Regions from separate parts of the Homo sapiens genome. Here all the other regions are linked to region 2. The links come from fine-mapping of genetic effects on gene expression. A gene starts in region 2. Each other region holds a variant in brackets. All regions are shown on one strand. Distances are from middle to middle. Region 1 overlaps PHKB (phosphorylase kinase regulatory subunit beta). Region 2 holds the start of PHKB (phosphorylase kinase regulatory subunit beta). Region 3 has its middle 130 kb from the start of SHCBP1. Region 4 has its middle 14 kb from the start of LINC02133.

What was found. PIP is the estimated chance that this variant, and not a neighbour inherited with it, causes the effect.
Region 1: its variant is fine-mapped to the expression of PHKB in whole blood (TOPMed, PIP 0.92).
Region 3: its variant is fine-mapped to the expression of PHKB in cerebellar hemisphere (GTEx, PIP above 0.99).
Region 4: its variant is fine-mapped to the expression of PHKB in whole blood (INTERVAL, PIP above 0.99).

Annotation. Positions count from the first base shown.
Region 1 is chr16:47,488,287-47,496,286 of GRCh38, reverse strand. All of the region lies in intron 1 of PHKB (phosphorylase kinase regulatory subunit beta), which reads right to left. Among named protein-coding and RNA genes, the nearest start is that of PHKB, 31 kb to the right of the region's middle. RefSeq lists enhancers at 3,301-3,370, 3,662-4,184. The variant G/A (reference allele first, on the strand shown) is at 3,442.
Region 2 is chr16:47,456,552-47,464,551 of GRCh38, reverse strand. PHKB (phosphorylase kinase regulatory subunit beta) reads right to left here and starts at 3,221. Exons shown (of 31, transcript NM_000293.3): 1 at 3,126-3,221. The coding sequence starts at 3,201. It overlaps ITFG1 (integrin alpha FG-GAP repeat containing 1), which reads left to right and starts at 3,489. Exons shown (of 18, transcript NM_030790.5): 1 at 3,489-3,714; 2 at 5,377-5,449. The coding sequence starts at 3,507. RefSeq lists a silencer at 3,111-3,580.
Region 3 is chr16:46,484,898-46,492,897 of GRCh38, reverse strand. It overlaps the pseudogene ANKRD26P1. Among named protein-coding and RNA genes, the nearest start is that of SHCBP1, 130 kb to the left of the region's middle. The variant CA/A (reference allele first, on the strand shown) is at 3,857.
Region 4 is chr16:47,840,783-47,848,782 of GRCh38, reverse strand. No RefSeq gene overlaps it. Among named protein-coding and RNA genes, the nearest start is that of LINC02133, 14 kb to the left of the region's middle. RefSeq lists an enhancer at 1-280. The variant C/T (reference allele first, on the strand shown) is at 4,300.

The DNA.
Region 1 (8,000 bases), 32 kb before region 2:
AGACTAAGTACTGTCTCTCATTCTTGTTAAAAGCACTCAGAAATTAAAAACAACTCAAGGTCACAATTAATCCATCTCTGGATTCAGGTAATGTATACCATATAGTCTAAGAACATAGCACAAAAATGAACCTATAATTTACCTAGTGGCAGAAATCACATTGGCACAGATTAAGATTCTGTTTTTAAAGAAAATTAAAGCCTTTATGCTCATAAAATTGCTGTGTCCAACATCCTAGTTTAAAGCCAAGGTTTTGGGAAGCCTTTATGTTTACGCAGATAGTAACAATAAGAAGAACGTAAAGAAAGGGCCTATACATTCAGGCAACAGTCTCATTATCTTCTGCTGAAAAGATAGGTAATTTGTAGATAAGACTTGCTCTGAGCGAAAAGAAGATTTTCTTACAAGAGTATTCACAATGGCACCAACAGGAATGGGTCCATAGTGAGGAACGGAGAGACCTATCAACATACAGAACATCAGTACTCCTTTCCTGCTTCAAAGGAAAGGACCCAGCCCCCTCCAGTCATGCCCTTGCCTTCCTGTATTCAACTAGCTCCAGGCAGGTATAAGCATATGGGTAGCCTGGCAATCAGAAAGGAGTAATATGCCACTGCTAGAGCATAAGGTAATAAGCTCTAGGAGTCTATACACTCCCAGTGAAGCTCATTCACTATGAAAGAAAATAAATTAGGTACAAATAATCATAATTTATAAATTGTGCATATGTATATATAAAAATTAAAGGGGACACCTTTGCTGAGGTGGAAGAATTGCGGGTAACATTTCTGTTTTTATTTAGATCTCTATTAGTAGAGGTAGTATTTTGCTTTACATACAAAACATAAATCACCAAGAGCTGAGTATATAATTCCATTAAAATTAAATGATACATGAGCATATGGATATAGAATATGCAAACTTAAATCAACCTGCATTACAATGGTAGGTGAATTGATTTTGAGAGATTGTTTTGATGATATTTATACCAAGATTTTAGATTTAAAAATATTTATTTTTAAAAGTGCTAGGATATTTAAGAACTAAGGGACTATAGTGATTCTGTCATCTAATTTTTCTTAAAAAAAAAAAAAAAGGAGTTCTGTTAGAGGCAACAATAAATAAACAAAAGGAAAATCAGACCTCTCAAGAAAATAAGTATCTATTCAGTAAGAGGAAAAATAGAAGATGTTCAAAGCATAGCAGAAAAGGGTAAAAGTAAAATCATCTAAATTATACATTCAAAGAACGCCCATGATAAGTCAAGAACAGCTTGGTTAGATAAATGTTATTATTTTAGTGATCATCATTGTATTGTTTCTAAAGTAACTACATAAAATTAAACAAGGATGTTCTACACAATTAACAAGGATGTTCTACACAATTTATGGTAAACAATACCACAAATCTAAGTCAAAGGAAAAGTAATCAATGTTAACATTTTAAACAAAAATAGGACATCTGGAAAGCATCAATGCCAGTAAAAATGGAGACAGCAATTAATAGAGCATGAATTCCCAAAGCAAATTAAAGAGCTACAAAATAACAGAAAATTCTACTAAATGTTCCAATTGAAATGAAATTGTAAAATGTTAATTTTTCTTTTCCATGCTTTTCCCATTCGCATTATGTCTATACGCAAACATCACAAAGTAAAATAAAACTTATCAATGATAGGAGAAAAATAGCTCAGAGCAGACTGAGCTAGGTGAGGTATGCAAAACTTACCAGGCTCAGGAAGACAAGAGTAAGGGACTTCAATCACACTTTCCTTCCTATGCACCCACACCCAAGGGCCATGTTTACAGGCATTTTTGTTCCTGACTAGCTGCCTTACCCATTATCTTCCAGTTCCTGGAATTTGTGATACAAAGAACAATATAGAGCTAATCAATAACTTTTATTATATTAATATAAGTTACTGGAAACACAACTTAGAAGCTGCCTCTTTCCTTTAAAATCCACCTGTAACTGATGCTAATCAGAAGATATATTCAGGGCAGCTTCTATCTATGCTTCCACATAGATTTAGGCTTGAATACTCTATAATGAATCACATTTTCGGAATCTAGTTATTTAAGGTTAACATTTTGGTACCCTAGATGAGATCGGAAGTGGACCTCTAGAGAGCCCCACCACTTTACCAGCAATCAGCACCTTGGTACCAATACGATAAGTCCTCCTTCACCCAACCTTGCCAAAGTCAGCAGGAATCTCTGCTAAGGCCCCTGTTGGGATCTGAATCCTCCTGGCTTGATTAAGGATTAAGACTTTATTCAATTTGTACATATTCTTAACTAGTTGAGGTTGGAAGTGAAGCTCTATAAAAGGCAAGAGTTTCATTTGTTATTCTCTAGAGATCTGTTGACCTCGGATTTGTGACTTTCATTTTTCTCTGAAGTTAAGGTTTTATTTTGAACTACTAGTTGGAGTTTTTCAACCTTTTCTATAGTTTAAACTTTGGTCTTTGAAAAGAGGAAGTGAATCTTTGAGGCTTAAGTGAAAAACATGTAATTTTAAAAACCAGTTAAATTCTGAAGCTTGGTTCAATTGATAAATCTAAAATGTTCTTGAGTGACCAAAATAATAAAAGGCTCTCATGAGTCCCACTAGGTTTCTGGTCATTCAGGAAGGAAAACGAAAATTATGGACAACTATCTCTAAAACCTAGACTTTGTCCTTAAAGGGTGACCCACCTTTAGAAACACCAGCTGGATTTATATTTAATGCTTATGGTGCCTCTTCATGCTAACATTTAGAAAACTGGTCACACGTAACTAAAGACGACCCCAAATTACAACGGTCGAAATAGTGTACTTTTAAAATACCTCAACTAGTTTATCTGTACTCTCAATTTTAAAAAGCTAGCTCTAAAATAAAATAACTAGGAGAGCTATTTTCAATGATACTTAGAAGTTTCTAAAAGAGGTTCTGACAAAGTTATTTCTTTGCAAAAGGAAAATGTAAAATTTTATAAAGTGACTTTTAAAATGAAAAGTGCTGCTGAAATTGTTCCTCTTCCTCTTTCTGTTTATTCTAACTGCTCTTCCCTTCCCCCCTCCTGCTCCTGGTGTACTGGCCTCATTTCAGGAATGAGACAGCAAGCATAAAGAGGTCCCCAGAGAACTTCCAACTGGCCTGCACACTGGGAGGAGTGTGCAACGGGGTGGAGCCTCAGGAAGTGCGCACTGTTTGCCAGAGGGAGGAGCCTGATCTCCCCTGTTCCAGGGTGGTACCTAGGATTCAATCTATGAGGCGGAAGCCAGCTAGCAAGACTTTGGCTTTGCTGAGACTCTCTGTTTACCTTTGTTTTCCTTTTTGCCCGATAAATTTTTCTTGCCCTTTAAAGTGCCTGCAAGCCTAATCTCTCATGGTTGTGTGACAAGGACCCCATTTTTAGGTGAACTAAGGAGAAAGTCCTACAACAGTTTAGCACCCAAC[G/A]TGGGGCTTAAGAAAGGGTGAGTGAGATGCAAACCAAATCTATTTTTATCTCATTTTTAAGCCTTTTCATCCTCAGACTTCTGAGGGCAGGGGAAACCATGCCCCAACCCCTGTCACTCCCAGGTGTTGAGAAGGTCAGCCTCAGTCTCCATGGCATTTTCCTTTCTTTTTTGTGACGGAAGGGCGAGCAGCAGCTCCCGCCACCCTCCCCTCCCTGCCAAGGCTGGGGTGCGTGAACCAAGGGTGCCCAACAGCAGGCAGCTCTCCCTGCCATGCATCCATAGAGCCTTCCGCTCCCCCAGCCAGAAGGTCCCACTCCCTTGAACAGTAATGAAGTCTTTCTCACTGATGGAGGCATCCATTTGCATAAAAATAAGAGGTTCCTCTTTAGGCATTTTAAACTGGTTTTTTCTTTCCTTTTCTCCACCAGATCAGCAGTTGACTTTTAAATTAGCTTTTTTTTCCTTTTAGAAGACATTTTAACTAGGCTAGGAATGATAAGGATCACTGTTTATATTCTCAGTAGAGTTTTAATTGTGAAAAAGGATTTGTGAGGCTGGTCTTAATCTGTAGCCAATCTAGTGTACTTTGTCCATCTTTCCATAGCAAACTTTGTGGCAGGCCTCCATTCTGTTTTACATCCTTGGGAGCAAGGCCTGCAACCACGTGGCAATGTTTTGTTCTAGCCTCACCATTTTACAATGGCAGCCAGGAGTTCAATCCTGCCTTAGGAAATGAGTTCTTTCTAGTTTGATATCTGCAGGACCTTTGCCATTTTTTGATTCCCTGCCCCTCCACAAACTGACTTGGATTTTCTTTCTCTGAGCCTTTAGTAAAGTTTGAAAGCCAGAAATATCAGCTGTTTGGCCTGGCTAAAGTCAGGTATTAAGAAATTTTAAAAGGACCTTATTAAAGAGTGCTATGGCTAAAAGTCAGTTTAATTAAAAGCAGATATTCAAGCTCCAACAGCCTGGGACTCCTTGGGAAAAACACGGGGCGCCAGATACCCCATTTTGCAAAAAACCTCTGTTTTCCTCATGAAACCCCAGGAACTGGAAGTGGATAAATCCCTCTCAGAATTTAGGGTTCTGTTCTGTTTTGCATTGTGTTATCTGGCATTTTTTACTTTTGGGAGTATCAGAAATTACTTCACATTATGAGAGATACATAAAGACTGGCAAATGAAAGGTCTTGCAACTACTGAATCTTCTTCTAGTCTGCCTGTCAGTGTAGCTATATATGTGTTGAGTGTGATGTCTATAAAAAGACCTCTAAGTAATTGGCCTAAAGGAAGAAAAGTGCTTGGATGAAATATTTTTTAAAGGGAAGATAAAAGCTATGGTACCTTTTAGTTCACGTGACTTTAATCTTTGGGAAATAACAACAGCCTTAAAGATTATTAGTAAAATGCAGATGTCACCAATATGTAAATAGGAGGACTAAATTATGCAGGTTAGATACTAGGCTCACTAAATGTTTTAAGGTTACAAACTGCCTTTTGGGTTTTAAGAACTATTTGACTTGCTTGCTTCACAACTGGTAAGGCAATTGACATATAGACATAGTTCTATATGTCTGTAAGGGACATATACTTCCTTACAAACATATAGAACTATATGTCTGTCCCCTTATAGACATATAGAATTAACCACACCCTTACTTATGCTGGAAGGAGTCAATTATGCTGGCTGTATCTGGCACACAATTAAAACAACTTGCCAGGATTTACATTAAAGTTCAAATTGCTAGGAGGTACCATTAAAACACATAATTGAAACTACTGGAAATAGATTTACATGCTAGGTGTATAAGAACAGTAAAATGTGTTTTTAATGAAAGATTATTAGAAGATAGGAAAATGTAAAGTATTGGCTAGGGTTAAAGAATTGTTTTGAATTAGATAAGGTAAAGCTGAAGGTTCAAACAAGTGGCAGAAGGATCGTGGAAATGATTCTTGCAGAAGAGGCTTTCTGTGTGAACATGTTGACTAGGTTCTGGGGGTTATTATGTGGTTTCTCTGTGGGTTGAGCATTGGAATGAAAGCACAACAGGGTACTCTTGGGGCACTGATCTGCCCTTTGGCAAAATTTGGAAAGGGTTATAAAAGGTTTTTGCTTCATTAAAATTTCTCAGTCAAATAATTTATGGTAATCTGGAAATCAATTTCATAACATCAAGTGTGTTAATCCTCTAACATATTTAACAGGCTTCCCAAAATCAAACTTGAGCCTCATAATTGCCTTTCCTGATACCTGGCTTTTGGAAGGCTTTAGAGGGCCCCTGGAGCCTCCAGAAAAGAGGTAAACAGGATCATCTGACATGTTTAGTTACATGGGATTGCCAGAATGATGTTCAATCTTCTTTAGGTTATATTTTGGTGAATACTAATATTTGCTCCAAAACTGTATGGAATTTCTAAAATTTAATGTCTAAGTATATGTTAGCAAACATAAGGTTAAGCTATTATAAACCACAGAGATCACCAAACTTCTTTGTCAATTATGTTTCTAACTGTAACTACCCTGGACATTTCTATTCACAGATAATTGTTGTCTTCTTCTAATTCTTTTCAAAAGATGGTTTATAGTAAGTGATAGAACTTTGACAGGTGCTCTCAAATACAGGTTTCTGATAACTTTGTAGATTGTAATATTGGAATAAAGAAAAAATGTACAGGACTCATGAAGAGCTGAAATGTTCATGAATATCAAGAAATCAAGAACTAAATGGACTGAACTCAGAAAGCTGAAGCAATTATTTTTGACTTCTGCTTGAAATATTGCTGATCCTTGTTTTGTTTTTCAGTGTGAAGGAAACTTATTTTAAACTATTTATAGCCTTTAATAATTGAGTAAGGTATATTCCTGTGAACAAAATTTGGAGCATGTTTGTTTCTCTCTGCCTGATTCCTCATGAACCTGGAAACTATCTGTGAGTATTCTTAACTTATGGCAATATAGATGTTTGCATCAGTGCAATAAGAATCCATTTTTCTTTTGCAGCAGGACACAATTGGAGAAACTGGTTGTTTTACCAAGATTTCACTGGAACGGTATGCTTCCCTTTAAAGAGTCAAGCTCAACTTGCATAGCTAATAAAAGCCCCATGGTAAAAACTGGCCTCATACCATTGCCTACGCAGTTCTTGTACAGTGCTCCTAACCCATGGTCAGTAAAGAATGTCACTTTCTAACAGGCCTACGAACTCCAAGTTTATCTTGGGACCTTAAGAGAGGGTTACCCAACTCACAGGGTATTTGAGGATACAAACCCATGGCTGGGCTCAGCTTTAAAAGGTCTTATCTGAGATTCCTTGTGGAACAGAGTTCCATCGAAACCAATCTAAAAAGCCTATGTAGAAATAGTTATTCTTGCTGTACTTTATGCAAATAGTCAGGATAAGTATAAGACTAAAGTCTATGTTGCAAACAACTCAGTCCTATCATGATTTGTTTCGTTTTGTTTTTTAGCAAAAATGAGTACTGGAGGAAGAGAAATTATGTTTCAAAACATATCACACATTTGTCATTAAATTCTAAACTCACTGGAGTTCTCCTCACGAGGTCAGGAGATCGAGACCATCCTGGCTAACATGGTGAAACCCCATCTCTACTAAAAATACAAAAAATTAGCCAGCCATGGTGGCATGCACCTGTAGTCCCAGATACTCGGGAGGCTGAGGCAGGGAGAATCACTTGAACTTGGGAGGTGGTCACAGTGAGTGAAGATTGCACCACTGCGCTCCAGCCTGGGCGGCAGAGCAAGACTCTGTCTCAAAAAAATACAAATACAAATAAAAAAACAGCCATACTACTCAAAGCAATTTACAAATTCAATGATACTCCTATCAAACTACCAATGACATTTTACACAGAAATAGAAAAAAAAATTTTTTTAATTCATATGGAACCAAAAGAGAGGCAATAGCCAAAGCAATCCTAAGAAAAGAACAAAGCTGGAGGCATCACACTACCTGATTTCAAACACACCACAAGGCAGCTACGGTAACCAAAACAGCATGGTACTAGTATAAAAACAGACACATAGACCAATGGAACAGGCTACAGAAACCAGAAATAAAGCTGCACACCTACAACCACCAGATCTTTGACAACATTGAAGAAAACAAGCATTGGGGAAATGACTCCCTATTCAATAAATGGTACTGGGATAATTGGCTAGTCATATGCAGAAGATTGAAACTGGATCCCTTTCTTTTACCATGTATAAAAATCAGCTCATAGTGGATTAAAGACTTAAATGTAAAACTTAAAACCATAAAAACCCTAGAAGAAAAGCTAGGAAATATCATTCTGGACATAGGCCATGGCAAAGATTTATAACAAAGAATCCAAATGCAATTGCAACAAAAACAAAAACAAAAATTGACAATTGGAACCTAATTAAACTAAAGAGCTTCTTCACAGCAAAAGAAACTACCGATAGAGCAAACAGACAATCTAGAGAATGGGAAAAAAATTTGCAAACTCTGCATCCAACAAAGGTCTAATATCCAGAATCTGTAAGCAATTTAAACAAATTAATAAGCAAAAACTAAAC
Region 2 (8,000 bases):
GGTGCATCAACACAACGGTCTAAGAGCCATTGTGCCAACATCTGTTCCAGCCCTTACACCAGGATGCCACAGGATAAAGGCCAAAGCACATGGCCTCAAAATATTCCCTGGGGCAAGTCGCTTCCTGTCTGTGAAAACGTGTATATTAATAACCTGCTTCACAGTAAGCTGATGAAGAACAGATAAGTGGGATGTTGACCAAAATTTCCTAATTTGTAGAAGTTACTTCCATTGTGGCAAGAAGACAAAAATCATTTAAGAAATATGCTATGTGCACATTTGACAATGGGAGCTCCCAGACACTAAGGAACTGCCTCTGCTTGCAAATATCGGGGCAGGCACTCCACTCTCTGTTCTTTTCACATCCCACATGAGAAGAACACAATAGGCCACATTCAAAACACAATGCAAAGTTAAACAAAACACCAGCCGGGTACTCAGGCCTGGGCCCACCAAAGAAGAAATAAAGACATAATGATATCTTATAGTGAAATCAACCTTCAGAAACAAAGGTATTTAAAATTACCAAGTGACCCTTTTGGGGTCTACAACACTTACCAGACCTTAAGAAAGCGGAAGACGGAGAGACGACTGCATCAGGTGAGCAGGCCATTTCAAATTGTTGGCTCTAATCATAAGCGTCGCAGGCTAAGCTATAGCAATTTTAAAACTGTTTAGTAAAGGTTAGAAGCAATCAGTGTTAAATTAATTGAAAGCAGTGTGAGCAGTTATTAACATGATGCAGTATGCAACAAAGGCAGTAACTGAGGATCATTATAATTTTATTTTCTCTTTTATGACTTGAAAATGTGATTTTCTTTGCTTTGATAAATTACACTTGCTCATATGGATGAGATAGAAACTATATAATATCCACTTATTAGACATTACATAAAAGTAGTATCCTCTGTTGTGCAGTGAAGTAATTATGCTACTATGTAACAATGCTCAGAACTCTGTGGGGAGGACTCTATACTGGAGTCAGGTTAGTCAAGTGTTTAACAAAGCTCCATTTATATATTCTTCTAAAAGTAACAAACAGAATCAAGTTGATTGCTTTTAATGATACAGGAAGTTATTAACTCGAGTTATTAACTTTATCCTCTGTACTTCATATACTTACAAGAATCTGAAACCTCAAATTTAACTATTAATTTGGAGGAATAACTTCAAGTGGTATCTCTTTACTACTATGATGTAAACATACAGGAACATTCAACATTGATACTATGCACTTTGCACATAAAAGTGGATTTAAATAACTGCACTCAACAACAGTTAACACTAGAATTTTTTTTCTCAGCTAAGAAAAGAGAATTAAGGTTTTCAAAGCTTACTGTTATGACATGCATTTCAGAGGAAACAAAGACTGACGAAGAAAATCAACTCTATGAGCTTATGAAAGTTAAAGAGAAATGTTGCAAAAATATATGTTGGGGGCAGTACTCAGGTCCCTGTAAGAAAACTCCAGTTATTCTCTTTGTTCAGACATAACCAATCCAATAACACTTTTTATATCCAGATAGCCACATCGTTAGTAGCCAACTCAGTATTTCTATATCACACAAAAACAATTTAAGAAAAAGTGTGAAACAAATACATGTGACTATTCCAAGTCACTTTATTGATTCTTAGTAGTACTAAGGACTACTTTTTGAAAAAATTATCTCATACTTCATAGATGGTAATTTTACTATAACCCTAAGTATATAAAGCTGAACTTTTTGTAAGGTATAAAAAAACAGAGTGTTCGGTGTATGATTTCTGAAATTAGATTTTCAGAAATTAGATTTACTTTCTCCAAAAAAAAAAAAAAAAAAGTCAGTGTGCACAACAGACAACTAAGAACTTCATAAATAGGAAAAGCCCAAAACGTAAGGAGAACATATTAGGTGAGAAAATAATTTTTTTTTTTTTTGAGACGGAGTCTCACTCTGTCGCCCACGCTGGAGTGCAGTGGTGCGACCTCCACTCACTGCAGCCTCCGCCTCCCAGGTTCAAGCAATTCTTCTGCCTCAGACTCCCGAGTAGCTGGGGTTACAGGCGCCCGCCACCACGCCCAGGTAATTTTTGTATTTTTAGTAGAGATGGGGTTTTACCAGGTTGGCCAGGCTGGTCTCGAACTCCTGACCTCAGGTGATCCGCCCGCCTCGGCCTCCCAAAGTGCTGGGATTACAGGCGTGAGCCACCGCGCCCGTCCGAAAATAATTTCTTAATATCAATGCAAGTGCAAAGTTAATTTTCCTAGCTAACACCTTTCACACCCACCCCCAATAATGACACTTCATCAATTCTTTAAAAGGGAAGCTCCTTAGCTGAAAACCTGCATTCCGCCTTTCACCTTTCCTGTTTAAGTGCATGCCTTTTGTTCAAGATTATATCCAGCCAACCAGGAATACAGGAAGTTTTAATAACGCCACAAGTCATGACGTTGCAATTTGAACAAGTCAGTTCGGGACACTTGGAACTGTTAAAACTGCCTGCAAGGCACCTTCTGACCTCTATGCTTTCGGGTTTGGAAACCACACAACCTGGGGCCACTTAAGAAGCCCTTTTCTTTCTGGGCCCTAACTATACTCTTCAATATCTGAGGCCCAGTCTCCTTCAGTTTCTGCTAGATAGATGACAGGTCTACTGCTTAGAACCTGTGGGGAATGTAAAAGGGATATAAGACATAAAGCAAGGAGCCCAGACGCCGGCTTTCTGCAGCCAGATCGTAGTTACATCTGACTTGGTCTGATTAAGCTATCTGACTTTTGCAGAGAACATTCACAGGAAAGACACATTCACAGGGAAGACACATTCCCTTTCCCAGGAATGTGCCGCCGCCCGATTTTTAAGTTAGAAGACTCTAAGGGAAGTCCGGACCGCTGCCTACTTTCCGAGTGGGGCTCACAAGCGGAATAGAGTCGGGGGCACACGCAGAGTGGAGCTGGCTCTGCCACCTAATTTTTAGAGGTGGAGGAAGATATTAGAAACAAGGCCAGGGCCGCCACCTGCTTTCTAAGGAGGAACTCGGGGCACAGGTTCATTCCCAGGGCCCCCACCTGCCTCCCGCCAAGGCGCTTGAGGCGAAGCACCACCCAAGGTACTCGGGTGGGGGGCGGCGCCCCAGCCAGCCAAACCTGAGCGCTTGGTCCGAGCTCTTCGCTCCAAGACCTTCCAGCTCACTTCTGCCGTGAGTCCCGCCGCCCCCGCCATCGCGCTCCGGTCGCCGCCTTGGCCACCGCCCCCGGGGCCGCCTGTCAGCAATGCCGGGCCACGCCCCCCGCACGACACTGTCGGGAGGCGCGCCTGCCGGAAGTGAGCGTGAGGGCGGCTTTCACCCTAGCTCCACTGCTTTTTTAGCGTCGGAAGGGCAGCCCTAGTGGGAGAGAGAAAAAGGAGCCGGCAGCGGCTCTTACGCGTCCCGGGGCTGCGCGCCACTCTCTCGGCCGGTAACGCGGTGCTTTGCGGCTGTCGTCAAGCGCGGCGTTGGGCCGGCGGGCGGGGGCTGAGGGGCTGCCATGGCGGCGGCGGGCCGGCTCCCGAGCTCCTGGGCCCTCTTCTCGCCGCTCCTCGCAGGGCTTGCACTACTGGGAGTCGGGCCGGTCCCAGCGCGGGCGCTGCACAACGTCACGGCCGAGCTCTTTGGGGCCGAGGCCTGGGGCACCCTTGCGGCTTTCGGGGACCTCAACTCCGACAAGCAGACGGATCTCTTCGTGCTGCGGGAAAGTCAGTGCTTGCCGGGCCCTCCCTCTGTTCGCTGTCCGTGTGCCTCTCCCGGTGTTCCCCAAACCCATTGCCCAATGGCCGGTCCTTCTGCATTTCCTGGTCCTTCTCTCCCAGCCCTGTGGCCTTCCCTTTAGCATTCTTAACAGCTTGTCCTTTTGCACCACCCTTTCCAACCCCAGGTTCTGACCCAGCTACCCTACAGTTTGACCTACCCTCAAAAGCCCTGACAGCACCTCAGTTTTGTTCCTAAGAAGTCTGCGGCCCTCACCCAGTCACCTTACCCCCTCCTCCCCATGGAATCACCTGTTTTCCAAAGTGCTTCCTGATTCCTAGGAATCTTTGTAGCTTGCCTCAACGTTCGCTCCCAAGGCCCACTCATTCCTTTCTATTTTGCTTCAGTCTTCCTTCCCCGTTGATGAACATGAAAAGGTGCAACCTGACAATCTCTTCTCATAGGGGGCTTCTTCTTGCCTCCCCACCTACCTAATTCGCCCACCCCTTTCTTTGTCAAGGCCACAACTTTCTATGAAGCGAATGTACCCTTCCAAGGGCCTAAACACTAAACAGCTCACACAAGCATTTTGCAGGGACCACTGATAAACCCAATGCCTCCTTGGGAAAGCAGTCTCAAACTACAGAAATTTCTCTCTTGAGCTGCCTGTTCTTTCGTGTACTCCTTCCTCATCTTGGTCATCACCTTAGTGTTCCAAATGTCTACTTTCTTTGCTAACTTGTTCTTGGAAATTCTTTGCTTTGACAATCGTTAAACTAACTTTTTTGTAAATCTTGATGCTGACAGTGGGCATTAGGGGGTCTTAGGGTTCTTGAGTACCTACAGAAGCAGGTGCTGCTTAAAGATCAATGCTGTGAAGGAAGGAAGGAAGAGCTACTCAGAGCTTGCCTGACAGGATCCTGAACCAGACTTCTTGGAGCCCTTGCGGGGATGCAGGAACCTCTTACAAACCCTGAATATTTTCCCAATCTTTTTGACTCCTCATTTTGCAGTGTACTGCCAAACCTGTTGCTGCTGTGTCCAAACTGGATACAGAGAGTAGCCTTGACTTTAAAGATGGCCTGTGTTTGATTAAACAATTCCAAAAGTCTGTCTCAATGAGTGCTAATTGAGCTCCAAGAATGTGTCACCCTCTGGAGGATGGCCCCATAGGAGGAGGGTCTTGGAGGATTCAGCATTTTGTGCTCACATGCTTAATTATGTCTTTGTCAGATATCTACAATGGGAGTCCCTGCATCCTTGGTGTGATGCATCTGTGTAATGAACCAAACAGCCTTACAAGGGACAGCATTGCTAGATTCGGGGAAGACAAGTCTTGACATGTAGTATAGTTATAAGGCATCTTTATATGGTTCTTTTAAGTCAACCAATCTGACTCCTCGCAGAATCCACTGGCTTCAGTTTCTCTTGATCAGCTGCTTTTTCCCATGTTCATCCTTTCTATTTCTCTGCTACTTTGAACATTGAACTTGTGATATAATGTTAGGCATCTCCATTGGACTAGTGGGACTATGCTTGAGAGGGCAGATGAACTGGAGTAGAATAAAAGTTTTCTTGTTGAGAACAGTGCCCAGAAACCTTCTTGTAACCACTGATTAGATATCTTATCAACAAACATTTTTCTAATATCATATATTTGTTTTCTTTAGGAAATGACTTAATCGTCTTTTTGGCAGACCAGAATGCACCCTATTTTAAACCCAAAGTAAAGGTATCTTTCAAGTAAGTACAAATATGATTATTTTGATAAAACTTTAGTCATTAATATAATAATGGATATGCAGTAGCTGATTGGTTGTCTTTAAAGTCAGCCTTAGTGTTGGGATGCAAAACCACTGTTTGTGAGGTATGAGTAGCAAGTGATTTTTTGGAAAAATAGTGAAAATACCAAAGTTTAAAAATGACTTTAAAGAAATAAATTTGAGTGGATCCAGGTTTGTTTCTATATAAACACCCTTTATTTCCTTGCAATCTCGTATCCCTCGTATCCCTTCTTGAATGTGTCTCGTTCTGTGCCTCATCTTGAGGCAGCAGTCACTCACAGTAGTCTCATTGTATTAGCCATGTGTTGTGTTTTGTGGAAGAGGGGCCTATTTTGCAGTGGGGAAAAAGTCAGTGTTCTAATTTTTTTGTTTAATTGACTGATGGTGAGTTTTTAAGGTTGACTTGGAAGGAATTCAAGTTTAATTATCTGAATTTTTAAAATGTTCAAGTAATAGTTATTTTTCTTTTCTGTGGTTGGCATTGCATGAAACAATGACCACTCCCACACCTCTACCTCCATGATAGTGACCCAACACAGTTTTGAAACTACATTCATTTGAAGCAAGCATTCGTGGCTGTCTGAATTCAAGCAAGAAGAGATGGGTCAGTGCAGGCCAAAGGGGCAGCTTCCAGAGTCATGGAACTTGAGCTTGACCTTAGTATAAATAAAAAGTTAGGTGAAGACGTTCAACTTGGAAGTTCAATTTTGGGGACAGAGCATTTATAAGAGATAAAAGTAAGAACAGCATGTTATGAAGAGGAGGTAGAAAGATCTGCCTGACAAAAGTGGAAGGTACACTTCGGGGAGTTAAGGACTAAGAACATGAGATAAGAAGGGCAGACTGGGAGCCTTCAGATACAAAAAAGAGTTTGAATGCTGTCCCATTAGAAGAGGGGAATCATCAGGTCCTTGTGCAAAGGAGAGATGATGAAAACAGTATTTTAAATTGATTTACTTGTAAACTATATGCAGAATGAATTGGTTTGTAGAAGATTAAAGACTACTTAGGAAGCTGTATTTAAAAAGTCCCTGTGTGGGCTGATTAGTTCTCAGACTCTACAGTATTTTGAGTAAACTCAAACTCATGTTAAAAAGAAAAATGGCCTTGAACTAGAACTTTGAGGGGAAAGTTATAAATGGATAAACAGGAACTTATTTCCCTTGAGAAGTGTTTTTGGGTAGTGAATGTCAGCATGCTTGGAGTGGGGAAGAAACTGAAGTTGAGTGTATATGAGAAGTGAACTAACTGCATAGAGGTGATTTTTTTTTTATTAGAAATTAAGGAAATTTAAAAGATGTAAATGGCATGTGTTCTGATAAGTTAAAACAAATATCCCAATTAATTTTTTTATTAATGCAATGCACTTTCAAAATTTAGAAACTCTTGTTTGTGTTATAATTTAAAATATTTTTCAAAGTAAAAATAACTATTCTTCACCCTTATTCTCCCCCACACCCCTGTTTCTCTCTCAGATGCAACCACTTTTAAAACCTGTAGCTGATTCTTCTAGTGTTTATTACCATATTTTAAAATAAAATTTTACACTAATTTTCTTGAATTATCATTTTTAAATATTCAATTCTTGTTTTTTAACTAACATAATTTATCTACATTGTCCCAGTGTAATTAAATCATAATTTTTTGTTAAATTAGTAATCATTGTTTACCTTTTAACCATGTGGTGTCTATGTACTTCAGAACCAAGTAATGTACAGTATTTCTTTTCTTTTTCTTTTTTTTTTTTTCTTGAGACAGAGTCTCACTCTGTTGCCCAGGCTGGAGTGCCTTGGCATCATCTCAGCTCACTGCAACCTTTGCCTCCCGGGTTCAAGCTATTCTCCCACCTCAGTCTCCCAAGTAGCTGGGATTACAGGTGCCTGCCACCATGCCTAGCTAATTTTTTGTATTTTTAGTAGAGATGGGATTTCACCATGTTGGCCAGGCTGGTCTCGAGCTCCCGACCTCAGGTGATCCACCTGCCTCGGCCTCCCAAAGTGCTGGGACAGTATTTCATTTTTTGTGCAGCTTGCCCTACTGGAATAAATGATTGCTTTTTAAAAAATAGATTGCATAGTTTTCTATGTACATACCCTTAATTTCTTTGCAGATATTCCATCATATCTGCCATATACCTATCCTGCATTTTTGTTTTTCCCATTGGATCCTCTACATTCCTATCCAGTCTGGATTCATTCTCCAGGCCTTTTGTAGACTTACTATGTGGGGAATTTCCCCATGTAAAAAAAGAAATTTCCTCATTTACTTCACGGGGGTGTGTCTTTCCAGAAATTCCTGAGAAAGGATGCCTGATAAGTCCTGTCACATCCAAAAAGTTTTTCTACCCACTTTTTTTTTTTTTTTTTTTTAGAGACAGAGTCTCACTCTGTTTCCCAGGCTGGAGTGCAGTGGCACAAGCTCAGCTCACTGGAACCTCCACCTCCCTGGTTCTAGCAATTCTCCTGCCTCAGCCTCCTGAGTAGCTGGGACTACAGGTGCACAACGCCACG
Region 3 (8,000 bases), 970 kb after region 2:
AGATCTTTCCTGCTTTCTCTTGTGGGCATTTAGTGCTATAAATTTCCCTCCACACACTGCTTTGAATGTGTCCCAGAGATTCTGGTGTGTTGTGTCTTTGTTCTCGTTAGTTTCAAAGAACATCTTTATTTCTGTCTTCATTTCATTATGTACCTGGTAGTCATTCAGGAGCAGGTTGTTCAGTTTCCATGTAGTTGAGCGGTTTTGAGTGAGTTTCTTAATCCGGAGTTCTAGTTTGATTGCACTGTGGTCTGAGAGACAGTTTGTTATAATTTCTGTTCTTTTACATTTGCTGAGGAGTGCTTTACTTCCAACTATGTGGTCAATTTTGGAATAGGTGTGGTGTGGTGCTGAAAAGAATGTATATTCTGTTGATTTAGGGTGGAGAGTTCTGTAGAGTCTCTTAGGTCTGCTTGGTGCAGAGCTGAGTTCAATTCCTGGATATCCTTGTTAACTTTCTGTCTTGTTGATCTGTCTAATGTTGACAATGGGGTATTAAAGTCTCCAATTATTATTGTGTGGGAGTCTAAGTCTCTTTGTAGATCACTAAGGACTTGCTTTATGAATCTGGGTGCTCCTGTATTGGGTGCATGTATATTTAGGATAGTTAGCTCTTCTTGTTGAATTGATCCCTTTACCATTATGTAATGGCCTTCTTTGTCTCTTTTGATCTTTGTTGGTTTAAAGTCTGTTTTATCCAAGACTAGGATTGCAACCCCTGCCTTTGTTTGTTTTCCATTTGCTTGGTAGATCTTCCTCCATCCCTTTATGTTGAGCCTATGTGTGTCTCTGTATGTGAGATGGGTTTCCTGAATACAGCACACTGATGGGTCTGGACTCTTTATCCAATTTGCCAGTCTGTGTCTTTTAATTGGATCATTTAGCCCATTTACATTTAAGGTTAGTATTGTTATGTGTGAATTTGGTCCTGTCATTATGATGTTAGCTGGTTATTTTGCTCATTAGTTGATGCAGTTTCTTGCTAGCCTCAATGGTCTTTACAATTTGGCATGTTTTTGCAGTGGCTGGTACTGGTTGTTCCTTTCCATGTTTAGTGCTTGCTTCAGGAGCTCTTTTAGGGCAGGCCTGGTGGTGACAAAATCTCTCAGCATTTGCTTGTCTGTAAAGTGTTTTATTTCTCCTTCACTTATGAAGCTTAGTTTGGCTGGATATGAAATTCTGGGTTGAAAATTCTTTTCTTTAAGAATGTTGAATATTGGCCCCACTCTCTTCTGGCTTGTAGAGTTTCTGCTGAGAGATCAGCTGTTAGTCTGTTGGGCTTCTCTTTGTGGGTAACCCCACCTTTCTCTCTGGCTGCCCTTAATATTTTTTCCTTCATTTCAACTTTGGTGAATCTGACAATTATGTGTCTTGGAGTTGCTCTTCTCGAGGAGTATCTTTGTGGCATTCTCTGTATTTCCTGAATTTGAATGTTGCCCTGCCTTGTTACATTGGAGAAGTTCTCCTGGATAATATCCTGCAGAGTGTTTTCAAACTTGGTTCTTTTCTCCCTGTCACTTTCAGGTACACCAATCAGACGTAGATTTGGTCTTTTCACATAGTCCCATATTTCTTGGAGGCTTTGTTCATTTGTTTTTATTCTTTTTTCTCTAAACGTATCTTCTCACTTCATTTCATTCATTTCATCTTCCATCGCTGATACCCTTTCTTCCAGTTGATCGCATCAGCTCCTGAGGCTTGTGCATTCATCATGTAGTTCTCATGCCATGGTTTTCAGCTCCATCAGCTCCTTTAAGGACTTCTCTGCATTGGTTATTCTAGTTAGCCATTCATCTAATTTTTTTCAAGGTTTTTAACTTCTTTGCCATTGGTTCAAACTTCCTCCTTTAGCTCGGAGTAGTTTGATCTTCTGAAGCCTTCTTCTTTCAACTCGTCAAAGTCGTTTTCCGTCCAGCTTTGTTCCATTGCTGATGAGGAGCTGCATTCCTTTGGAGGAGGAGAGGTGCTCTGATTTTTAGAGTTTCCAGTTTTTCTGCTCTGTTTTTTCCCCCATCTTTGTGGCTTTATCTGCCTTCAGTCTTTGATGATGGTGATGTACAGATGGGTTTTTGGTGTGGATGTGCTTACTGTTTGTTAAGTTTTCCTTCTAAAAGTCAGGACCCTCAGCTGCAGGTCTGTTGGAGTTTGCTCGAGGTCCATTCCAGACCCTGTTTGCCTGGGTATCAGCAGCGGTGGCTGCAGAACAGCAGATATTGGTGAACCGCAAATGCTGCTGCCTGATCGTTCCTTTGGAAGTTTTGACTCAGAGGAGTACCTGGCCGTGTGAGGTGTCAGTCCGCCCCTACTGGGGGGTGCCTCCCAGTTAGACTACTTGGGGGTCTGGGACCCACTGGAGGAGGCAGTCTGCCTGTTCTCAGATCTCAAGCTGCGTGCTGGGAGAACCACTACTCTCTTCAAAGCTGTCAGACAGGGACATTTAAGTCTGCAGAGGTTACTGCTGCCTTTTGTTGGTCTGTGCCCTGCCCCCAGATATGGAGCCTACAGAGGCAGGCAGGCCTCCTTGAGCTGTGGTGGGCTCCACCCAGTTCGAGCTTCCCAGGTGCTTTGTTTACCTACTCAAGCCTCAGCAATGGCGGGCGCCCCTCCGCCAGCCTTGCTGCCACCTTGCAGTTTGATCTCAGACTGCTGTGCTAGCAATGAGCGAGGCTCCATGGGCGTAGGACCCTCCGAGCCATGTGCGGGATATAATCTCCTGGTGTGCCGTTTGTTAAGCCCATTGGAAAAGTGCAGTATTAGGGTGGGAGTGACCCGTTTTTCCAGGTGCCATCTGTCACCCTTTTCTTTGACTAGGAAAGGGAATTCCCTGACCCCTTGCGCTTCCCAGGTGAGACGATGCCTCGCCCTGCTTTGGCTCCCGCACGGTGCACTGCACCCACTGTCCTGCACCCACTGTCTGGCACTCCCCAATGAGATGAACCTGGTACCTCAGCTGGAAATGCAGAAATCACCCGTCTTCTGTGTTGCTCACGCTGGGAGCTGTAGACTGGAGCTGTTCCTATTTGGCCATCTTGGCTCCCATAAGTTATTTTTTCTTGATGTCTCTTTGTTTAAATCAAATTTTCTGTTTATTTTTTCCTAACAAATTACCCAAAGTTGAGTTGCTGAAAACAACATTTATTTAGTTCAGCCATCTGTGGGTGGGGAAAACTTTGGCCAGGACAGCTTGTCTCCATTCCCCTGAGCTTCACTTGGGATAAATCAGAGGTTGGAGGACTGGAATCCTATGAAGGCATGTTCCCTAACTGTCTGGTTGTTCATGATGGCCATTGACTGAAACTTTAGTTGGGGCAGGCAGCTGAAATACCTTCATTGGAACTCTTAGGCTATCTTTGTGGCCTGAGCTTCCTCACAACGTGGGGTCTAAGTTCCAAGGACAAGCAGTGTGAGGTAGAGGGCCTTTTCTAACTTAATGTTGGAAGACACGTGGTATCACTTTTACCACATTTCTTCATTAGAGGCAAGTCAGTAGGGTTGGCCCACAGTCTACTTCTTTATAGGATAAATTTTTTTCTTCTATTTTTATTATTTATCTATTTATGTATATTAGAAATGGATCTCACTGTGTTACTCAGGCTGGCCTTAAACTCCTGAGCTCAAGGGATCCTTCTGCTTCAGCCTCCCAAATTGCTGTGACTACAGGCATGTTACGCCATGCCTGGCTTTCTTTTATATTCTGTGGTCATGTATATTTGTACATATTTATAGGATACACAGTAATATTTTGATACATGTAAACAACGTATAATCGTCAAATCAGGTTAATTATTATATCAAGCACTTCAACCATTTACCATTCTTTTTTTTGTGAACATTTATAATCCTCTCTTCTAGCTTT[CA/A]AAAAAATACAATAAATCATAGTTAATCATATTCACCCTACAATGCCACAGAACACTAGAGTTCATTCTATCTAGTGATAATTTCTTTTCCATTAACCAACCTCACCCCATCCCCCACTCCCCTTCATTTCCCAGACTCTAATGTCCACAGTTCTTTTCTCTACTACCACGAACTCATTTTTAAAAAAAATTTAGCTCCCACATGAGTGAGAACATACAGCATTTGTTCTTCTGTGCCTGACTTATTCTACTTAACATAATGTCCTCTAAGGTCATCTATGTGGCTGAGAATGATATAATTTTATTCTATTTTATGGCTGAATAGTCTTCCATTGTGTACAGATACCACATTTTCTTTATGCATTCATCTGTTGATAAACATTTAGGTGGATTCCATATCTTAGTAATTATAAATAGTGATACAATAAAAATGGCAGTGCTGGTATTTCTTTGATACATTTATTTTCTTTCTTTTTGATAAATACTCAGTAGTGGGATTGTTGGATTGTTTTATAGTTCTATTTTTAGTTTTTAAGAAACCTCCATACTGTTTTCCTTAATGGCTATACTAATTTACATTCCCTCCAACAGTGCATAAGAGTTTCCTTTTTCTGCAACCTCACCAGCATTTTTTACTTTCTGTCTTTTTGATAGTAGCCATTCTAACTGTAGTGAGATGATATCTCATTGCAGATTTATTTCATTTCCTGATAATTACTGATGTTGAGTATTTTTCATATATTTGTTGGCCATTTGTACATCTTCTTTTGAAAAATGTCTATTCAGATCCTTTGCCCACTTTTTAATCAGATTATTAATTTTGTTTTTGCTGTTGGGTTGTTTGAGCTCTTTATATAAGCTGAATATTAGACCTTTGTCAGATGAATAAATTGCAAACATTTTCTTCCATTCTACAGATTGTCTCTTCACTCTGTTGGTTGTTCCCTTTGCTATGAAGAAACTTAAATTTTAATATAGTCTCATTGGTCAGTTTTCGCCTGTGTTTTTGATGTTTTAGTCATCACAGCTTTGCCTAGACCAAGGTACTGAAGCATTTCTGCTATGTTCTCTTCTAGTAGTTTTATAATTTTGGTTCTTAAATTTTCTTTAATCCATTTACAGTAGATTTCTGTATATGGAGAACTATAAGGATCTAGTTTCATTCTTCTGCCTACAGATATCCAGTGTTCCCAGCCTTATTTGTTGATGAGAATGTTCTTTCCCCCATGGATGTTCTTGACATTTTATCAAAAATAAGATGGCTGTAAATATGTGGATTAATTTCTGGGTTCTCTATTCTTTCTGTTGGTCTTTGTATTTGCTTTTATACCAAAACCGTGTGTTGTGGTTACTGTATCCTTGTAATATAATTTGAAGTCAGGTAGACTGATGCCTCCAGCTTTTTTTTCCTCAGGATTGGTTGGCTAGTGTGGCTCTTTTTTGGTTCTATGAGTTTTAGAGTCATTTTTCCTAACGCTGTGAAAAAATGGTGTTGGTAGCTTGATAGGAATAGTGTGGATTGAATTTGTAGATTGCATTGGGCAGTATAAGCATTTTGATGATACTCATTCTTCCAATCCATGAGCATGGATTTTTTTCATTTGTTTGTTTAATTTCTGATTTCTTTTGGCATTGTGTATAGTTCTTCTTGTAGAAATCTTTCATTTATTTGGTCAGATGCATTTCCCGGTATTTTTTTTTTTGTGGCTATTTATAAATGGGATTGTGTTCTTGATTTGGCTTTCACCTTAAACACTATTGGTGTATTGAAATGCTGCTAATATTTCCACGTTGATTTTGTAACTAGAAACTTTACTGAAATTGCTGTCAGATCTAGGAGCGTTTTGACAGTCTTTAGGGCTGTCTAGGTGTACAATCATATCATCTGAAAAGAGAGATAGTTTGACTTCTTCAGTTCTTACTTGGATGCCTTTAATTCCTTTCTCTTGCCTGATTGCCCTGGCTAGGACTTCTAGTACTATGTTGAATAGGAATGGAGAGAGTGGGCATCTTTTTCTTGTTCCAGTTCTGAAGGAAAATGGTTCCAAGGTTAGCCCATCGAGTATGATGTTGGCTGTGTGTTTGTCATAGGTGGCTGTCATTATTTTCAGGTATGTTACTTTGATGCCTAATTTGTTGAATGTTTTGATCATGAAGGAATATTGCGAGTCTACTGAAAGTTTTTCCTGCATCTGTTGAGACGATCATGTGGTTTTTAAGAATTCTGTTTATGTGGTGAATCACATTTATTACTTTGTATATGTTGAACCAACTTTGCATCCCAGAAATAAAGCCTGTCAGATTGTAAAAAAGTGAATTTTGGGTCAGGCACGGTGGCTCTTGCCTGTAATCCCAGCACTTTGGGAGGCCGAGGTGGGTGGATCACGAGGTCAGGAGATCGAGACCATCCTGGCTAACACAGTGAAACCCCGTCTCTACTAAAAATACAAAAAAATTAGCTGGGCATGGTGGTGGACACCTGTAGTCCCAGCTACTCGGGAGGCTGAGGCAGGAGAATGGCTTGAATCCGGGAGGTGGAGCTTACAGTGAGCTGAGATCACGCCACTGCACTCCAGCCTGGGCCACAGAGCGAGACTCCGTCTCAAAAAAAAAAAAAAAAAAAAAAAAGTGAATTTTTGATGTGTTGCAAGATTTGGTTTGTTAATGTTTTGTTGAGAATTTTTGTGTCTATGTTCTTCAGAGATATTGTCCTGCAGTTTTCTTTTTTCACTGCATCTCTTTCAGCTTTTAATATCAAGATGATGCTGTATTCATAGAATGAGTTAGGGAGGAGTCTCTCAAACTCGATACTTTGGAATAGTTTCAGTAGGATTGGTAACAGATCTTCTTTGTATGTCTGGTAGAATTTGGCTCTGAATCCAATAGGTTCAGGGCTTTTTCTTTGGTTACTAGGTTTCTAAATTACTGATTCCATTTCAGAACTTGTTATTGTCTGTTAAGGATTTTAATTTCGTCTTGGTTCAATCTTGGGAGGTTTTGTATTTCTGGGAATTTATCCATTTCCTCTAGATTTCTTAGTTTCTGTGCATAGAGGTGTTCATAATAGTCTTTGATGATATTTTGTATTTCTGTGGGATCCATTGTAATGCCATCTTTGCCATTTCTGATTGTGTTTATTTGAATCTTCTCTATTTTTTCTTTGTTAATGTAGCTAGCTAGCTATCGATCTCATTTATCCTTTCAAAGGACAAACTTTTGGTTTTGTTGATTACTTGTAAGGATTTTTGTGTCGCAAATTTATTCAGTTCTGCTCTGGTTTTAGTTATTTCTTTACTTCTGCTAGCTTTGAGGTTATTTGGTTTTTGTTTTGCTAGTTCTAGTAGGTGCGATTTTGTTAGTTTGAGACCTTTCTGGCTTCTTGATGTCTGTATTTAGTGCTATAATCTTTTTTCTTAATACTGGTTTTGCTGTATCCCAGAAATTTTGGCGTGTTCTGTCTCTGTTTTTATTTATTTTCAAGAGTTTTTAATATCTGTCTTTATTTTGTTGTTTACCCAAAAGTCATTCAGGAGCAAGTTGTTTAATTTTCATATAATTATGTGACATTGAGAGAAATTTTTGGTATGGATTTCTATTTTTATTCCACTAGGGTCTGAGATATTATGCTTGGTATACTTTCAGTTTTTAAAAAATGTATTGAGAGTTGCTTTATGGCTGAGCATGTGGTCGATCTCAGAGTGTGTTCCCTGTGCCGATGAGAAGAAAGTACATTCTGTGATTGTTGGGTGGAGGATTCTGTAAGTGTCAATTAAGTTCAATAGGTGAAATGTTAAATTTAATTCTAGAATGTCTTTGTTACTTTTCTGTGTCAGCAATTTGTCTAATGCTGCCAATGAGGTGTTGAAATTTTTAACTATAATTGGGTGGCTAACTAAGTCTTTTCATAGATCTAGAAGTACTTGTTTTAGAAATCCGATGCTCCAGGGTTGGGTGCCTATATATTTAAAAATATTTATGCCTTCTTGTTGAATTGAGTTCTTTTATCATTGTGTATCATTCTTTATCGTCTTCTTCTTTGTCATTTTTAAAAACTGTTGTTGGTTTAAAGTGTGTTAATCTGATATAAGAATAATGACCCCTGATTTTTTGTTTTCTGTGTGCATGATAGATCTTAGTTTATGC
Region 4 (8,000 bases), 380 kb before region 2:
CCTAAGGCTTGTTTTTGAGAAAAAGATCTCATCTCCTCATTCCTGTGGCTCCCTAACCCCCTGTGTGCCTCCCCTCCACAGATGTCTTTGAGTCTCTGTCTTGCAGTGATGTACGAGGCCAAGCTCCCTCCCCATAGGCCATCGAGCCAGATGATTCATGCTGAACAATCTAGTACATTCTAACACAGCCTTCTGTGAAAGGCAGCTTGGCTCCAAAGCTGCAAAATACAAAGCCTTTCACAGCAACAGCCAAACAGGTAAATAAATGAATCAATACTCAAGCACTCAGCACATTCACGCATATTTACTATGGGAACACGCTGGACCAGGCCCAATACCTGGGCTCCTAACTGTGCTAGTCAATATCACTTGTCAATTAAAACCTAAAGGAGTTTTATCACTCCCCCTGACACCCCAGACTCCTGGCTCATAAAATGGATTTCAAGTCAGTGTAAATAGCTTGCTTTGCCCAGCAGCTGTGTTCCTGAAAAGTTTCTTGTAAATCAAATCATCTTTTAAAATGCATGAAACTTTCTGCTTAAAAGGAACCCTGTGATTAATCCTTTTGTAAGGCAAAACATCTTCCTGTAATATAAAAAATACTACTACCACCTCCCCCCATCTGGCTCTTCCTCCCCTTGCCACCTCCTGGTTACCACCTGCCCACCTCCACTCCATTCCATAGGTCAGCTTTAGGTGCAAATACCATTTTTAAAGAGGATTCACATTTTTGTGACTTGGAAGCAAACCAAGACCCATCTTTTTAACATGTATCTTACAAATATCCTGGTTGAAAAGCCTGCAGAATATACATCACTTGTTTGCAGATACCACAATACACAATCACCAGAAATGCTGATGAGCTTGGCTATGAAAGGAATGAGCTGATGCTCTCTAAGAGGATGGCTTATCATCCCTTACTCAAAACAAAATCGAAGGCAGCATCTTGGAAGGCAGGTGGAGACACGATTAAGGACGCCTTTACTTCCCCTCCCCAGCTCACGCCACTGCTTCCTGCTAGTGAAGATTGAAAAGAAGAATGAATCATGGAAAATACCATTCTCCAAATGTCATTGGGAACATCAGTCTATACTTCTGCCTAAAAATGAGACTAAAGACTAGCCCCATGTTTCTCCTTCTTCCAACATTTCAGATTTTTGCCATGCCTGTGAGCCACCTGTAGCATTACTTACTCGGTTTTAGTTAAATTGACTTCTTCTTACTTAGCCTCATGAGAACTGAGGGCCAAGGAAGAGCTTTCCCCTTGACCCTCTGAAGTTCTGCTGAAAAATCAACTCACAAAAGGCAGACAAATGTGTGTAATATGTATACACAGGAACCTTGAGAATGATGATGTAATTCCCTGGTTAGGTTCCAAAGCTTGCATAGCATCTCGAGGTTATAGAAATAATGCATGCTCAGAGCATGGCCCAAAACAGGTTAGGTTGGTAGATCAAGTTTAGTGCCAAGGCAGGTTATGAGAAGGGGAGAGGAAGGGGCCTGGCTACCAAAGGGGGTCTCATTATGTAGAGTAAGCCTCTTGGGTGGCAGCCCTAAAGAGAACATATGGTAAATGTCCCTTTTCTGACATTTAAAGGGTCAGACTCTCAATCTCCCATAGATCCAGGAAAGGCCTAGAAACGGAAGGCCTGGCTGCATCCATGGAGATTCTCTACAGATGCAAATTTCCCCCACAAAAGACAGCTTTGCAAGCCACTTCTGTCTGTTGGCTCTGTGGCAGCCATTTCAAAATATGTCAAATAAATAGATTTTGGAGTAAAATATCTTTATTTCCTTCAAGAAGCAATGAGATCCATGAAATTGCAGGTTTCAGATGTAGTTATATCTTTTCTAGAACACGTTAATGTGAGCTTATAACTGAAACCACCTTTGGAAAAATTATAACAGTGAGAAAATTATGACAATGAATGAGATCTGATCTAACTCACTTCCATCTTGCCTTTAACCTCCAAACTGCCCTAATTATTCCTGGGCCTAGTCCAAGTTAACTCTGGGAGACATTTAGTTTATACTTCAAATGGTAATATCCCTTCCCCGAAACTCTACCACTTTTGTAAGGCTAATGAAAGACCACCAGGTCAGGAGGATGACATGAGCCTGAATTCTGCTAACATGTAAAGGATTACCAGTCATTATGCTGGGGTTCACAAGATTTGCAACTTTCCCAATTATTCCTGCAGATAAATCACTCTTGTAGAACATAAGATTAGCCTCTTAAGATGTCTTTTCAGGTTTTTTCATTTCTGATGACAGATGGCTCCACCTGGACCTACCAAGGGGTCCGGTGGTCCCACTCAGAAGCAGACTGAGCATGCAGGAGGATCACTTTCCACACCCCTATGATGGCATCCTCAACCAATCAACAGCACCCATTCTCTGGCCTGCCAAACTATCCTTGAAAAACCCTAGTCTCCACATGTTCAGGGAGACTGATTTGAGTAATAAAATTCCAGTCTCCCATTCAGCTGGCTCTTCTTGAATTAAACTCTTACTCTAATGCAATTCCCCCATCTTGATAAGTCAGCTCTGCCTGACCAGCAGGCAAAATTAACACATTGGGCGGTTACATAACTATGTAAAAATGGGTTCATCCAGGTGCTACCTAAAGTCATCCTGTGGGCCACTATTGATACACGTACCACACTTTGCCACCACACTTTGAATGGACAAGGTAACCAAATATGATTGAGCCATGCTAGTCTTAATTCCCTTACCATTGTTTGCCTACCTGCGCCTGCATTCACTCAACAAACATTGGTATCTACCATGTATGGTCATTGTACAAGGCATGAATGAGGAGAGAGGAGAGACTCTGTGCCTTTGAGAGCTTACGGTTTGGTGGAGGAGGCTGAAAGAGAGAGAGTTGTGATCTAGCATGTTGTACAAAGAACTGGAGGAACACAGAAGAGACATGAGCTCTACTTCAGGAATAGGAACTTCAAAGACAGCACTTTGGCTGGGCTTAGAAGGGTGAACAAGATTTGCTCTGATGAGGGGAGCGAAGAGAAGACATTCCAGGAGAGAAAATAGCAGTGTACAAAGGCTCAGAGGTATGTGACAGGAAGATGCAGGCAGAAGGGGTGGGTGCTCTGGCTGGCAGGAGAGGGAACAACAGTTTTTAAAAATCACATGATGGGAGTCTTTGGTGTAGACTTGGTGATAATGTCCTCAAGGTTAATCCATATTTTTGCAGGTAACAGACTTCCTTCCTCTTAAGGCTGAATGATATTCTATTACAAGTTGTTATAGATTGAATTGTGCCCTTACCCAAGTGTAGAAGCCTTAGTTAACCCCCAATATAACTATATTTGGAAATAGGGCCTTTAAAGAGGTAATTAGGGTTACATGAAGTCGTAAGTGTAGAGCCCTAACCTAATAGGACTACTGTCTCTATAGGAAGAGGAAGAGACACCAGGGAGGCACTTACACAGAGAAGGGATGAATGGAAGGACATGGCAGGAAGGCAGTCCCCTGCCAGCCACGGAGAAAGGCCTCAGATAACCCAACCCTGCCACACCTTGATCTTGGACTTGTAGCATCCGCAGCTGTAAGAGAATAAATTTCTGTTGTTTAAGCCACCCAGTTTGTGATATTTGGTTATGGTGGCACTAACAAATTAATAAATATGTATATATGTGTGTATCCATTCATCTGTCAATGGACATTGGGATTGCTTCCACCTTTGGGCTATTGGGAATCATGCTGCTATGAACATGGGTGTGCAAAGATCTCTTCAAGACCTTGCTTTCAATTCTTGTGGATATATATCCAGAAGTGGAATTGCTGAATCATATGGTAATTCTATTTTTAATTTTCTTGAGGAAGTTTCATACTGTTTTCCATAGCAGCTGTGCCATTTTACATTCCCAGCAGCAGTGCACAAGGGTTCCTATTTCTCCATATCCTCACTAACACTTGTTTTCTGTGGTTTCTTTTTTTTTTTTTTTTAATAGCAGCCATTCTAATCGGTGGGAGGTGGTATCACATGGTAGTTTTTCTTTGCGGTTCCCTAATGATCAGTAATTCAGTGATATTGGGCATCGTTTCATGTGCTTATTGGCCATCTGTAAATCTTTGGAGATTCAATGTATATTCAAGTCCTTTGAACATTGCTGAATTATGTTGTTTCCTTTTTTGGTGTTGAGTTTTAGGAGTTTACTATATATTATGGATATTAATCCATTATCAGTGTCTTCTTATATTAATAAGAAAAATAAAATGAAACAGTGGTAAAGTGTTGGGGCAGCAAAAATTTGGGGGGATGGTATGGAGAGATAA[C/T]GGGCGATGTTTCTCAGAGCTGCTTTGAGTGGGATTAGGGGTGGGATGGGAACCTAGAGTGGGAGAGATTAAGCTGAAGGAAGATTTTGTGGTAAGGGGTGATATTGTGGGGTTGTTGGAAGGAGCATTTGTCATATAGAATTATTGGTGATGGCCTGGATATGGTTTTGTATGAATTGAAAAACTAAACGGAATAAGAGAAGGAGAAAAACAGGTATTAAAGGACTAAGAATTGGGAGGACCTAGGACATCCAATTAGAGAGTGCCTAAGGAAGTTCAGCATAGCCCTGCCAGCAAAGATTATTTATTTAAGAGTTGAGAGTGGTGGTTTGGGGATAGCACCAGGAGATATCAGCTGTGATGGCTTGGAGAAACAGTGTAAACTGGCAGTGTAAACAAGGGCAGGGCATTTATGAGTAGTTGAGAATGGTGAATAGGAGTATGACTAGACAGAAGATAGTAGAGATGACAAGTTTTTTGGGGCACAGTCCAAATTGACCTGGTGTCTGGAATGAGACTGGGCCCTAAGAAAAAGGAGGGTCTACACAGGAGCTCAAATGGGCTGTACCCTGTAGCATTCCAAGGACAGGCCCAAATTCTCAGAAGGGAAAGTGTTAAGAGTATTGTCCAGTCCTTTTTAAGTTGGTGGCTGAGCTTGGTGAGGTGTGTTTTTAAAAGACCATTAGTTCACTGAGTACCAAGAGCCTGAGAAACTGCTTGGGTGAGTTGACTAATAAAGGCTGGTCCGTTATCAGACTGTATAGAGGTAGGAAGGCCAAACCGAGGAATTATATCTGACAGATGGGAAGAAATGACTGCAGTGGCCTTCTCAGACCCTGTGGGAAAGGCCTCTACCCATCCAGTGAAAGTGTCTACCCAGACCAAGAGGTATTTTAGTTTCCTGACTCGAGGCATGTGAGTAAAGTCAATTTGCCAGTCCTGAGCAGGGGCAAATCCCTGAGTTTGATGTGTAGGGAAGGGTGGGGGGGGTGCCTGAACAATCCCTGAGGAGTAGTAGAATAGCAGATGGAACACTGAGAAGTGATTTCCTTAAGGATAGATTTCCACGATGGAAAGGAAATGAGAGCTTCTAAGAGGTGGGCTAGCAGCTTGTAACCTACATGGAAGAGGTTATGAAATGATGACAGGATAGAATGGGCCTGTGAGGCTGGAAGGAGATATTTTCCATGGTCTAAGAACTATTTGCCTTGTGTGGGAAGAGATTGATAGGTGGAAGTTTTAGTCGGGGAGTAGGTGGGAGTGGCCAGATGAGAAGGAGGAAAACTGCCGTGAGTGATAGAAGTTGGAATGCTAGCTGCTTTTTTAGCTAACTTATCAGCATAAGCATTGTCCTGAGCCATGGAATCTGATGCCTTTTGATGGCCTTTGCAACAAATGACTCCAGCTTCCTTTGGAAGTAAAGCAGTTTTGAGAAGCATTTTTATTAAAGAGGCATTAATGATGGAGGACCCTTGCATAGACAGGAAACCTCTTTCAGCCCATATAAGAGCATGGTGGTGCAGGACATGGAAGACATATTTAGAGTCAGTATAAATATTGATGTGTAGTCCCTTTGCAAGAGTGAGGGCCTGAGTTAAGGCAATAGTTCAGCTTGCTGAGAGGTAGTGGAGGGGGCAGAGTGGTAGCCTCAATGATAGGTGTGGAAGATACTATAGCATAGCCTGCCTTTGCTGGTGAGTGGCGATTAGGCCTAGTGGAACTGCCATCAATAAACCAAGTGTGTTCAGGGTGAGGAACAGGAAAGAAGGAAATATGGGGAAATGGAGTGAATGTCAGGTGGATCAGAAAGATACAGTCGTGGGGGTCAGGTGTGGTATCAGGAATAATGTGGGAGGCTGGATTGAAGTCCGGAACAATGGTAATTGTGGGAGACTTAACAAAGAGTGAGTATAGCTGAAGGAGCCGGGGAGCAGAAAGTATATGCATCAGGTGGGAGGAAGAAAATAGATTTTGGAAGTTATGAGAAATGTACAGAGTGAGTTGAGCATAGTTTGTGATTTTGAGGGTCTCTAAAAGTATTAAAACAGTGGCAGCCACTGCACGCAGACATGAGGGCTAGGCTAAAAGAGTAAGGTCAAGTTGTTTGGACAGAAAGGCTATAGGGCGTGGTCCTGGTCCTTGTGTAAGAATTGCAACCACACAGCCCTGCACTTCGGCTGTGTGTAATGAAAAAGGTTGGGATGAGTTAGGGAGATCTAGTGTGGGAGCAGCTTTTAGGGCTGTTTTTAAGGAACAGAAAGGGGAGTGGGGAAAGGATTTAGGCTCTGTGGGGTCAGCTAGGATTTAGGCTCTGTGGGGTCAGCTAGGTTTGCTTTTGTGAGTTTATATAATGGTTTAGTCAGGATGGTAAAACTAGGTATCCTAGGTACCTAGGTACCTAGGCAGAAGTACCTAACCATGCCTAGGGAGGAAAGGAGTTGTTTTGTAGAAGGGATTTGGGTTTGGGAGATTAGCTGGACATGATCAGCAGGAGAGCACTTGTGTTTTCATGAGAATTATGCCGAGATAGGTAACAGATGAGGAAGAAATCTGGGCTTGACTGAAGTAATGGGGGCTGTCTGTGAAGCCTTGAGGCAGTACAGCCCAGGTAATTTGCTGAGCCTGATGGGTGTCAGGGTCAGTCCAAGTGAAAGTGAAGAAAGGCTGGGATAAAGGGTGCAAAGGAATAGTAAAGAAAGCATGTTTGAGATCCAGAACAGAATAATGGGTTGTGGAGGGAGGTATTGAGGATAGGAGAGTATATGGGTTTGACACTACAGGGTAGATAGGCAAAACAATTTGGTTGATAAGGCACAGATCCTGAACTAAGCTGTAAGGCTTGTCTGGTTTTTGAACAGGTAAAATGGGGGAATTGTAAGGAGAGTTTATAGGCTTTAAAAGGCCATACTGTAACAGGTGATGGATAACAGGCTTTAATCCTTTTAAAGCATGCTGTGGGATGGAATATTGGCATTGAGTGGGGTAAGGGTGATTTGGTTTTAATGGGATGGTAAGGGGTGTATGATCAGTCACCAAGGAGAGAGTAGAGTTGTACTATACTTGTGGATTAAGGTGGGGAGATACAAGGGAAGGATGTGAAGGAGGCTTTGAACTGGGGAAAAGGGCGGCAATGAGGTGTGGCTGTAGCCTTGGAATAGTCAGGGAAGCAGCTAATTTAGTTAAAATGCCTAGACCTAATAAGGGAACTGGACAGGTTGGGATAACTGAAAAGGAGTGCATAAAAGAATATTGTCCAAGTTGGCACTAGAGTTGGGGAGTTTTAAGGGGTTTAGAAGCCTGGCCATCAATACCCACAACAGTTATGGAAGCAAGGGAAACAGGCCCTTGAAAAGAAGGTAATGTGGAGTGGGTAGCCTCCATATTGATTAAGAAGGGGAAGGACTTACCCTCCACTGTAAGAGTTACCTAAAGCTCGGTGTCTTTAATGGTCCTGTAGGCTTCCGAGGCGATCAGGCAGTGTCAGTCTTCAGCAGCTAAGCTGAGAAGATCTGGAAAGGAGTCAGTCGGAGAGCCTTGGGCCAGAGTTCCAAGGGCTCTAGGAGTGGCTGCTGGGTGAGTTGGACAGTCTAATTTCCAGTGGGGTCCCACACAGATGGGACACAGCTTAGGAGGAATCCCGGGCTGTGGGCATTCCTTGGCCCAGTGGCCATATTTCTGGCACTTGTGGCAAGCTCCTGGAG